2 separate regions of the Homo sapiens genome follow, and region 1 is linked to region 2. Evidence: fine-mapped expression QTL. A gene starts in region 2. The other region holds a variant in brackets. All regions are shown on one strand. Distances are between the middles of the regions. Region 1 has its middle 11 kb from the start of ZNF174. Region 2 holds the start of TBC1D24 (TBC1 domain family member 24).

Region 1 (4,380 bases), 940 kb before region 2:
AATGGAAGGTGAGAATTCCTCGGGCTGGGCGCCAAGCAGCCCACTCAGAGGGGACTCTTTCAGGTATTTCCTGTCGAGGCCCCGCCCCTCACCCTAGGAGCGTTCTATCCTCCGGTGGCGATTTCCGGAAAAGCCTACCTGGAACATCCGGCCACAGGGCTCGCTCAGCTGCAGGGTCCTTACCTGTCTATTCCTGCCCGTTGTCCCTGGGTGACCCCGGGAATGGGGGCATGTGACTCCCCGGGGGACCGCGTTCCCTCCCTCCCAGCACGTCCCAGGCCCAGAGGAGGAGGCGGCTTCACCCTGGCGGGGGCTTGCCCTCAAACCTATCGGGCACTGACCCTTGGAGGAGGGCTCCCGGGTGCAGTGTTGAGGCGGGAAGGCAGAGATCTGCATTGAGAGGGTTTCGTTGCGATCTGCATTGAGAGGGCAACTGCAGCCAAGTAGAGCCATGTTTTGCTTTGAGAAGGTTTAAGAGGAATTCATCTAGCCAGTGAGGTCAGGGAGTCACTGTCTCACTGCTGTTTTCTTTTTTTTGAGACGGTGTTTCACTCTTGTGACTTCCAGTCTCTGGTTGCAAATATAAGGAGCTTGAAAGTTGTCACTCCATTCTAATGACAAATAAAAAGCTGAACAACCCGAAAAACCCAACAATTCTTCTGTAAGAGAAGTGAGGTCACAGGGCAAACAGCCACCCCAAAATTTGTAGAGACAGACTGGTGGATACGGAGAATCACAATCTATTGGAGCAGCTGAGGTCCTCTGGCAGACCATGCATGGGTACGGGGGCTGAGAGGAAACTTACATCTGAGTACAGGACCTTGGGTTCTTGTAGCCATTGGACCCTTCCTGGTCCTCTTGGCCTGGAGTTGAGCCTTATACCAAAGGAAGGCTATGCTTGGGGATGGTCTGTTGCCCAGGCTGGAGTGCAATGGTGCGATCTCAGCTCACTGCAACCTCTACCTTCCTTCAGCCTCGCCTCCCGGGTTCAAGAGATTCTCATGCCTCAGCCTCGTGAGTAGCTGGGACTACAGGCGCACACCACCACACGCGGCTAATTCTTTTTTTTTTTTTTTTTTTTGGTACAGACAGGATTTCACCATGTTGGCCAGGCTGGTTTTGAACTCCTGGCCTCAAATGATCCGCCTGCCTCGGCCTCCCAAAGTCCTGGGATTGCAGGTGTGAGCCACTGCGCCTGACCCCAACCCTTATAATTAAGTAGAAATCTATGGTCCTTCTCTTTTAGGAGAGATGCTCTTTGACTAACTTGATTCAAGATGGATATGTGCGGTGGGTTGAGTCATGGCACCCCAAATGTGTCCACATCCTAATACTTGGAACCCATTAAGTTTACCTTATATGGCAAAAGGGGCTTTGCAGATGTTATTAAGTTAAGGATCTTGAGATAGGGAGATTATTCTGGATTATGCCGGTGGGCCCAACATCATAACGGTCCTTATACAAGGCAAGCAGGAAGGTCATAGTCAGAGGAGAATGCGGTGGAATGAGATTGGAGTGATGCACTTTGAGGGTGGAGGCCAAAGGATGTGGGTGGCTGTTAGAAGCTGAAAAAGTCAAGGCAAGAGATTCACCCCTCAGAGCCTTCAGAGGAACCAGCCTTGCCGACAGCTTGATTTTGGCTGAGTGAAATCAATTTCAGATTTCTGACCTCTAGAACGATAAGGTTGTGGGTTTTTTTTTTTTTTTTTTTTTTTTTTTTTTGAGACGGAGTCTTGCTCTGTAGCCCAGGCTCTGGAGTGCAGTGGTGCAAACTCGGCTCACTGCAAGCTCCACCTCCTGGGTTCACGCCACTCTCCTGCCTCAGCCTCCTGAGTAGCTGGGACTACAGGTGCCTGCCACCACGCCCAGCTAATTTTTTTTGTATTTTTAGTAGAGACGGGGTTTCACTGTGTTAGCCAGGATGGTCTCGATCTTCTGACCTCGTGATCCACCCACCTCGGCCTCCCAAAGTGCTGGGATTACAGGCGTGAGCCACCGTGCCCGGCGGTTTTTTTGCTTTTTGTGTTTTTTTGTTTGTTTTTGTTTTTTGAGTCCAAGTTTCACTCTTGCTGCCCAGGCTGGAGTGCAGTGGCACAATCTCGGCCC[A/G]CTGCAGCCTCTGCCTCCCATGTTCAAGTGATTCTTCTGCCTCAGCCTCCCGAGTAGCTGGGATTATAGGCGTGCACCACCACATCCGGTTAATTTTTGTATTTTTAGTAGAGACAGGCTTTCACCATATTGGCCAGGCTGATCTTGAACTTCTGACCTCAGGTGAACTTTTCACAACCTTGGCCTCCCAAAGTGCTGGGATTACAGGTGTGAGCCACCACGCCCGGCCCCAGTTTGTGTTGTTTTAAACCATTAAGCTGGTGGGTCATCTGTTACCACACCACAAAGTACCTAATACAGATGTGACTATGACTTGGAGGTTATTAAGGGACAACAGTGAAATCAGCCTGGTTTCAGTAGGGTGAGGTGGAAACACAATGAGGAAGAAAGAGGCCTTGACCAGGGAGAGGTATCAGGATGGAGCCAGGTATGGGGCAGCTCGGATACAGAAGCTAAATTCTTCATGATCTAACATAACAGATGGGAATGGGATCAGGGCCTAAAGTACCTAAAGGACCACAAAAGCTGTAAGGAAGGCCACTGGGCCTTCAATAAGCCTCTGCCCAAAAGACAGAAGCTCACCTGTGCATTCAACAGATTGTCACCAGGATCTCTGAACTCAGGCAGACATGGGCCCTGTGGGTACAGTGGGGATTCTCAACTGTTCACATACTGAACATCTGTTTCTCTTGGCTGGTTATTGACAAAGTCCAGAAGCTAAAGTTATGGAAAAACAATGTTCTTGTTTTGAAAGAGCTGTTATAGTGCATGGTAGTTTCCCAGCCTTGGTGATACTGATTTTTTGAGCCAGGTCATTGCTGTGGGGGCTGGCTGTCCCGGCACTGCAGGCGGTTCAGTAGAACCCACTAGAGGCCAGCAACAAGCCTCCCTTCCCCAGTCCTAACAACCAAAAGTGTCTTTGGACTTTGTCCGACAACCCCTGGGGGGCTCCCAGTTTGAGCACCCCTGGTGTATGGGGTCTAGCAGAGAGGCTGGACCCCAATTTTCACAGAAGTCTGCCTAGGGCTCCTCAGGGAAGGCTTTGAGAGAAGGAAACTCTTGTGAGAGGGAGGAGGCAGGAGGGAGTGGGGAGCATCAGGAAATAAAGGCAAAGGAAACAATTGTGTGCAAAGGCCCCAAAGAGGACTCATAGGTGTGCATATGTCCCTCGGCAGTTAGAAGGGACAAGAGATTCCTTGGGGGGTACAGAAGAGCTCAGCCCACAGCCCTGAGGTGACTGGTAGTTACTTGATGATACTGATGTTTTGTGAAGAATGCTACCTTGCTGAGCGTACATCTGTAATCCCAGCACTTTGGGAGTCTAAAGTGAGAGGATGGCTTGAGCCCAGGAGTTCGAGGATAGACTGGGCAACACAGTGAGACTCTGTCTCTACAAAAAAATAGAAAAATTAGCCAGGCATGGTGGTGCATTCCTGTAGTCCCAACTGCTCGGGAGGCTGAGGAGGGAGGATTGCTTGAGCCCAGAAGATCGAAGCTATAGTGAGGCATGATCACGCCAGTGCACTCTAGCCTGGGCAACAGAGTGAGACCCTGTCTCAAAAAAAAAAAATGCTACTTGCTTCTTATTTTCTGCATCAGGAATGCACTAATCTGCCAAAAGTTTTCTCTAAACTGAGCAATGAGCTAGGAATTGTATACTGATTTGCATTTTAATTTCCGCTTTGAGAAAACGAGGAGGTGGCATTAGATGATCGCTCAGGCTTATTTCCAGGGCTCATTTTATATAAATATATTTTGTCACTTAAAAATACGCTGTTGAGGTACAATTTACATATCATAAAATTAGCCCATTTCAATTATTTTTAGTAAATTTACTGAGTTGTGCAACCATCACTGTAATCCAGTCTTAGAATATTTTCATTACCCCAATCCTTTTGCTATTTTTTTTTTTTCCTGAGACAGAGTCTCACTCTGTCATCCAGGCTAGAGTGGAGTGGTGCAATCATAGCTCACTGCAGCCTCTAACTCCTGGGCTCAAACAATACTTTTGCCTCAGCCTCCAAGAGTAGCTAGCTGGGATTATAGGCATGCACCATCATGCCTGGCTAATTTTTGTATTTTTTGTAGAGACAGGATTTAGCTACATTGCCCAGGCTGGTCTCAAACTCCTGGGCTCGATCACCCTGCCTCAGCCTCTCAAAGTGCTAGGATTACATGTGTGAGCCACTGTACCCCCATTGCATTTTGTTATTCTTAAAGCTAATGGGCTAAGTGAGAAAGGAGAGTGGGAAGAATTCCCTTTTATATCTCCTT
Region 2 (4,335 bases):
TAAATGCATTTTTATTGTTTTGTTTTTCAGAGACAGGGTCTCACTCTGTTGCCCTGGCTTGAGTGCAGTGGCACAATCACAGCTCACTGCAGTCTTGAGCTCCCAGGCTCAAGTGATCCTTCTGCCTCAGCTTCCCAAGTAGCTGGGACCACAGGCACATGCCACCATACTTGGCTAATTTTTTATAGAGACGAGACCTCCCTATGTTGCCCAAGGTGGTCTTGAACTCCTGGGCTCATGCGATCCTTCCACCTCAGCCTCCCAAAGTGTTGGGATTGCAGGCGTGAGCCACCGCACCTCGCTTAACAAACACATGTTGAAAGGATACAGAAAATCATTGAATAATGAATTCAAGTTGGTCCTCAGTAAAAAGCCTGAGGTTTTGTTTCTTTGATTTTATCTCCAATTGAAAGGCAATGTTTGAAACAGCCACTGAAATTGCTGCTTTGAGTTGAAAAGGACTTCTTTCTTCCATTTACAGAGTTGTCATAACAGAAAAGGTATGCTCAGACAGGTAAAACATTGAACAGGGTAAATGTTAAGTGCTTTTTTTGTAACCTGCTTCATTGTCCTTATGTACTTTAAACCAGAAACCATCTAAAGGCAAACATTTAATATGTTTTCTGAGCTTGGCTCAATCTGTAGATAATTAAGAGCAACACTGCATGCCCAAGGTCACTCGAGCCTGCTGGACACTCCTGGCAGGTGTGGTCAGCGAGAGCTAGTAAGGCTACCCTACAGGTGACTTCACAGACCCTGGGTGGCCAAATTTATTGTTGTTATGAAAACCTTGCCTAGATTACTTCTGCATCTCGGAAGGTCACCCTCAACCCAGTGGAAAGCCACTGCAATAGTTGACATCTATCACTCCGACAAAAGGACCTTGATCCACTTCAACCATCATGTAGAGAAAACCTCTGGTCCGGCCCTGGCCAGGCTGTGGGGAAGCAAAGATGAACAGCGTGGCTCCCGCCCTCTTCACAGGGAAAGACAGGCTTCTAAGTAGAGCAAGCACTCCCCAATAAGTCCTCCATGTAAAGCCTCTATCTGAGTGTTCAGATTAGATGAGGATCAACCCTCAGAATAAAAGGCGGTGCACGCAGGGGTCACGCCACAGGCTAGGAACAGTAACTGTAAAATCTTCGTAAGATTTTCTGATCTTCTCTAATCTGGATTGGTTTTTTTTCCCAGTGTGTGTTCCTTAAAATGAAAAGAACCTGACTGCTTGTCTTCGCCGCAACTGAGCAAACATTTACAGGTGCCTACTGTGTGCTGAAGACAGAGCCCTGGCCCTCGGGCGGAGGAAACGCCACGTGTGCCATCTACAGGTGCCTACTGTGTGCTGAGGACAGACTGTGAAGACGGAGCCCTGGACCTCGGGTGGAGGAAACGGCCCACGTGCCAAATAATGGGACGGTTCCTTCTGCACACTGCCTGGAAGTCACCTGGTGACTCCAGAGCAAACACAGCAAAACAGGGAAAAATCACCCGCTAGTGCTTCTATCGGCACTGGAAGGGCAGGCTGACGCCCCCTTTCTGGAATAAGCTGCTGGGTAAAGACAGTGACATCGGCTTCACAACCACAGCCACCAACCTAACAGCCCACCTGCACCTCCACACCACCCAGGTGGCTTTTAGACAACCTTTGACCTTTAATATCACCCCCGCAAGCAGTAACCCGGGGGCCACAGCGCGTTTCCCTGCGGGGCACGGCCATCAAAGAAGGCCTGTGGCCAGGCCGCGGGGACTCCCGCCTGGAGGGGGCGGGAACAGGTGCAGCCCAGCCCAGGTGGGGCCGGCTCTCCCCTCCGCTGTGCTGGCTCAGGGCTGGGAGTCCCTGGCTTCCACCTCCCAGGGCCCGAAGGACAGCGGCCGCCTGGCACGGCGCACCCAGAGGGGCCCCCCACTGGACAGGGCCGGGGGCTGGCGGACCCCCAAGCGGGTGGTCGGTGGGGGCGTGTGTCATCCCTGGGCGGGGCGGGGCGGGGCCCGGGGCCGCTGCAGGTCCACAGGGCAGGGCGTATCAGAATCTGTTGCAATCTCACCGAGCCCCCAAGAGGATTTCCGACCCTGCGGAGACGGAAAGCGCCCCAAGGAAACAGTGACACAGTCACTCTTCCAGACGACACCATGCCCTGGGCCGGGCCGCGGGCCAGCGACCGGGCGGGGATCGGGCCTCGCGCCCAGGGGGTCCCGCTCCTGCGCCCCCTCCCGTAGGCCAAGCCGCAGCTGCAGCGCCGGGCGGTGCCGGGCTCTGGAGCCCCCAACCCGCGCGTGGCCGGGGATCCCCGCCTCGAATGGGGCCCGCAGCCCGGCCCCCACGCTCCCGCCCCCAGCACGCGCCGACCGCGGTGACAGCGGGGACCCGGCCCCGCCACCCGCCACCCCGCCGCGCGCCCCCCGCACGCCCCGAGCGCACCCACCTCCGCGCGCCGCTTTCTCCTCAGCCTGCCGCGCCGGCCTTTCTGCGCACGCGCGTGCTCGGCCCCGCCCCCGCCGAGCTGTCGCCCTGTGCCCACCCCGGAGAGCCCGCGGGGCTCCGGCCTGCCCGGCTCTGGGCATGCGCGCTGACGGTCGGCGGCCGCAGCGGCGGAAGCTGGGGCCGGCCGGGAACCGGTCCCGTGCGGAGAGGAGGCAACGGCAGTGCGGTCCCGGGGGGACAAGCCAAGGGGGGCGGGGGGTGGCACGGCCCTGCCGAGGGCATCGGGGGCCCGGACAGCCGCCTGTCGGAGTCGCGGTCCGGCCGGGTCACGCGTGGATCCGGAACCGCGTGGGCACGACGTCCCTTCCCGAGTCGGGGGAGAAGGGCTGGAAGGAGGTTCTGGGACGGGCCCTGAGCTGAGGAGCTGTGGCGCCGAGGGTCAGAGACGCGGCAGAGAGAGGGACGGCCGGACGGAGCCGGCAGACGGGGACACAGGCGGCCAAGAAAGTTACGGGACCCGGCAGCAGACGCCGCGGGGCGCCCGGACGCGGACGCCCAGCCCGCAGGGGCCAAGGCCGCCGCCCTCGTGGGGCTGCAGGAGGCAGGGGACGCCCTGTCCCCCCATGGGGGTCCAAGGCGCCTGCGGTGGCCACAGTCTTTGGGGAGGTCAGTGCGCTCCCTGGCGGGTCGCCGCACAGGTGGGGGTGCATCACAGCGGCCCCGGGGATGATCTGAGATCCCCGAGAGGGCCCGGCATCACGAAGGATTCACAGCCTTCCGGGTATCCCAGTGCCCCTGGGACAGGGCCGACAGCCAGAGGGCGGGAGACCATGGGGTCCTCCGGGTGTGCCATATCATCTGCCTCTGTGCGGGGCGGGCTGTCGCTGCGCCGGTCACATCCCCCCAGGGCCAGACGGGAGGTACCGAGGGAGCTGCCGGCGGGGACGGGGCGGCGGCCCAGGTGGCGACACGCGCGACGCGAGCAAGGACTCCTTGGCAGGCGAAGGCACAGGGTGAACGTGCGCCTAGATGTGGGAGCAGCGGCCGCCCTGCCCAGCCGGCGGGCTCAGGCGGCGCTGCAGCGCCCCCGCCGTTCGCGTCGCTGCAGCCTCCGCAGGCGCCGCGTCCACGCGTCCCTCCAGGGTAGCACGAGGCTTCCGCGGGCGGCGATGAGCCCGGGCCCCCGGCCCCCCGCGCCCCCAGCCGCGGCTCCAGGCCCGCCCCCCAGCAGGAGGTAGCGGCGGCCGGGGAGCAGGCGCGGGCAGCCGCAGGCCGCATCCCCGGCGGGCACCCACAGCGCGCTACTCCCGCGCCGCGCGCGCTCCTCTCCGCTCCGGAACACGGCGAGCACCGCCACCGGGAAGCGTGTCCACGCGCCGCGCGCCTCGCCGCGCGCACCCACCGCCACCTGCACCGCTGCGGGGAGAGCGAGAGGGGGCGGGGTCAGGAAGGGGCGGCCTGCCCGCGGTAGGGGGAGGCACGGGGAGGACACCAGGAGGGCAGTGGGGGCTGAAGGGGCGGGGTCGCTGCCCGTGGAGGACCTGAGGGATGAGGATGGGCCTTGGGGCCCAGCAAGGGTCAAGGCGTTCCAAGGGGAAGCTGGCGGAGGAGGGAAGGTAGGGAGAGGAGGAAGGTGGGAAGGTCCGCGGGAGGCCTGAGGGCACCTACCATAGTCCTTCTTGCAGAACTTCTTTAGGCTGATGCGGTAGCTGCCACGGGCAGGTTTGCAGTGCGAGTCACAGTCTGGGTAGAAGGTGGGAGGCTGGCACAGACTCCCTTTCCCCACCCTCTCCTCCCAGAGCCCCCTCCCCCAAAGTCATGCCAGTCTGGGGCCCTGTCCTGTGTCCACTCACCCTGGGGCTGCACAGGGCTGCTGTCCTCAGTGGGTCCAGGGATAGGGGTCTCTGCAGAGA

What was found. PIP is the estimated chance that this variant, and not a neighbour inherited with it, causes the effect.
Region 1: its variant is the best candidate, but not a certain one, in a credible set for the expression of TBC1D24 in spleen (GTEx, PIP 0.85).

Annotation. Positions count from the first base shown.
Region 1 is chr16:3,409,803-3,414,182 of GRCh38, reverse strand. No RefSeq gene overlaps it. Among named protein-coding and RNA genes, the nearest start is that of ZNF174, 11 kb to the right of the region's middle. The variant A/G (reference allele first, on the strand shown) is at 2,107.
Region 2 is chr16:2,473,259-2,477,593 of GRCh38, reverse strand. It overlaps TBC1D24 (TBC1 domain family member 24), which reads right to left and starts at 2,467. Exons shown (of 8, transcript NM_001199107.2): 1 at 2,424-2,467. It overlaps NTN3 (netrin 3), which reads right to left. Exons shown (of 6, transcript NM_006181.3): 4 at 4,276-4,326; 5 at 4,091-4,165; 6 at 3,449-3,838. The coding sequence ends at 3,489. RefSeq lists silencers at 1,706-1,905, 2,366-2,855, 3,256-3,525, 3,586-3,645, 3,716-3,865.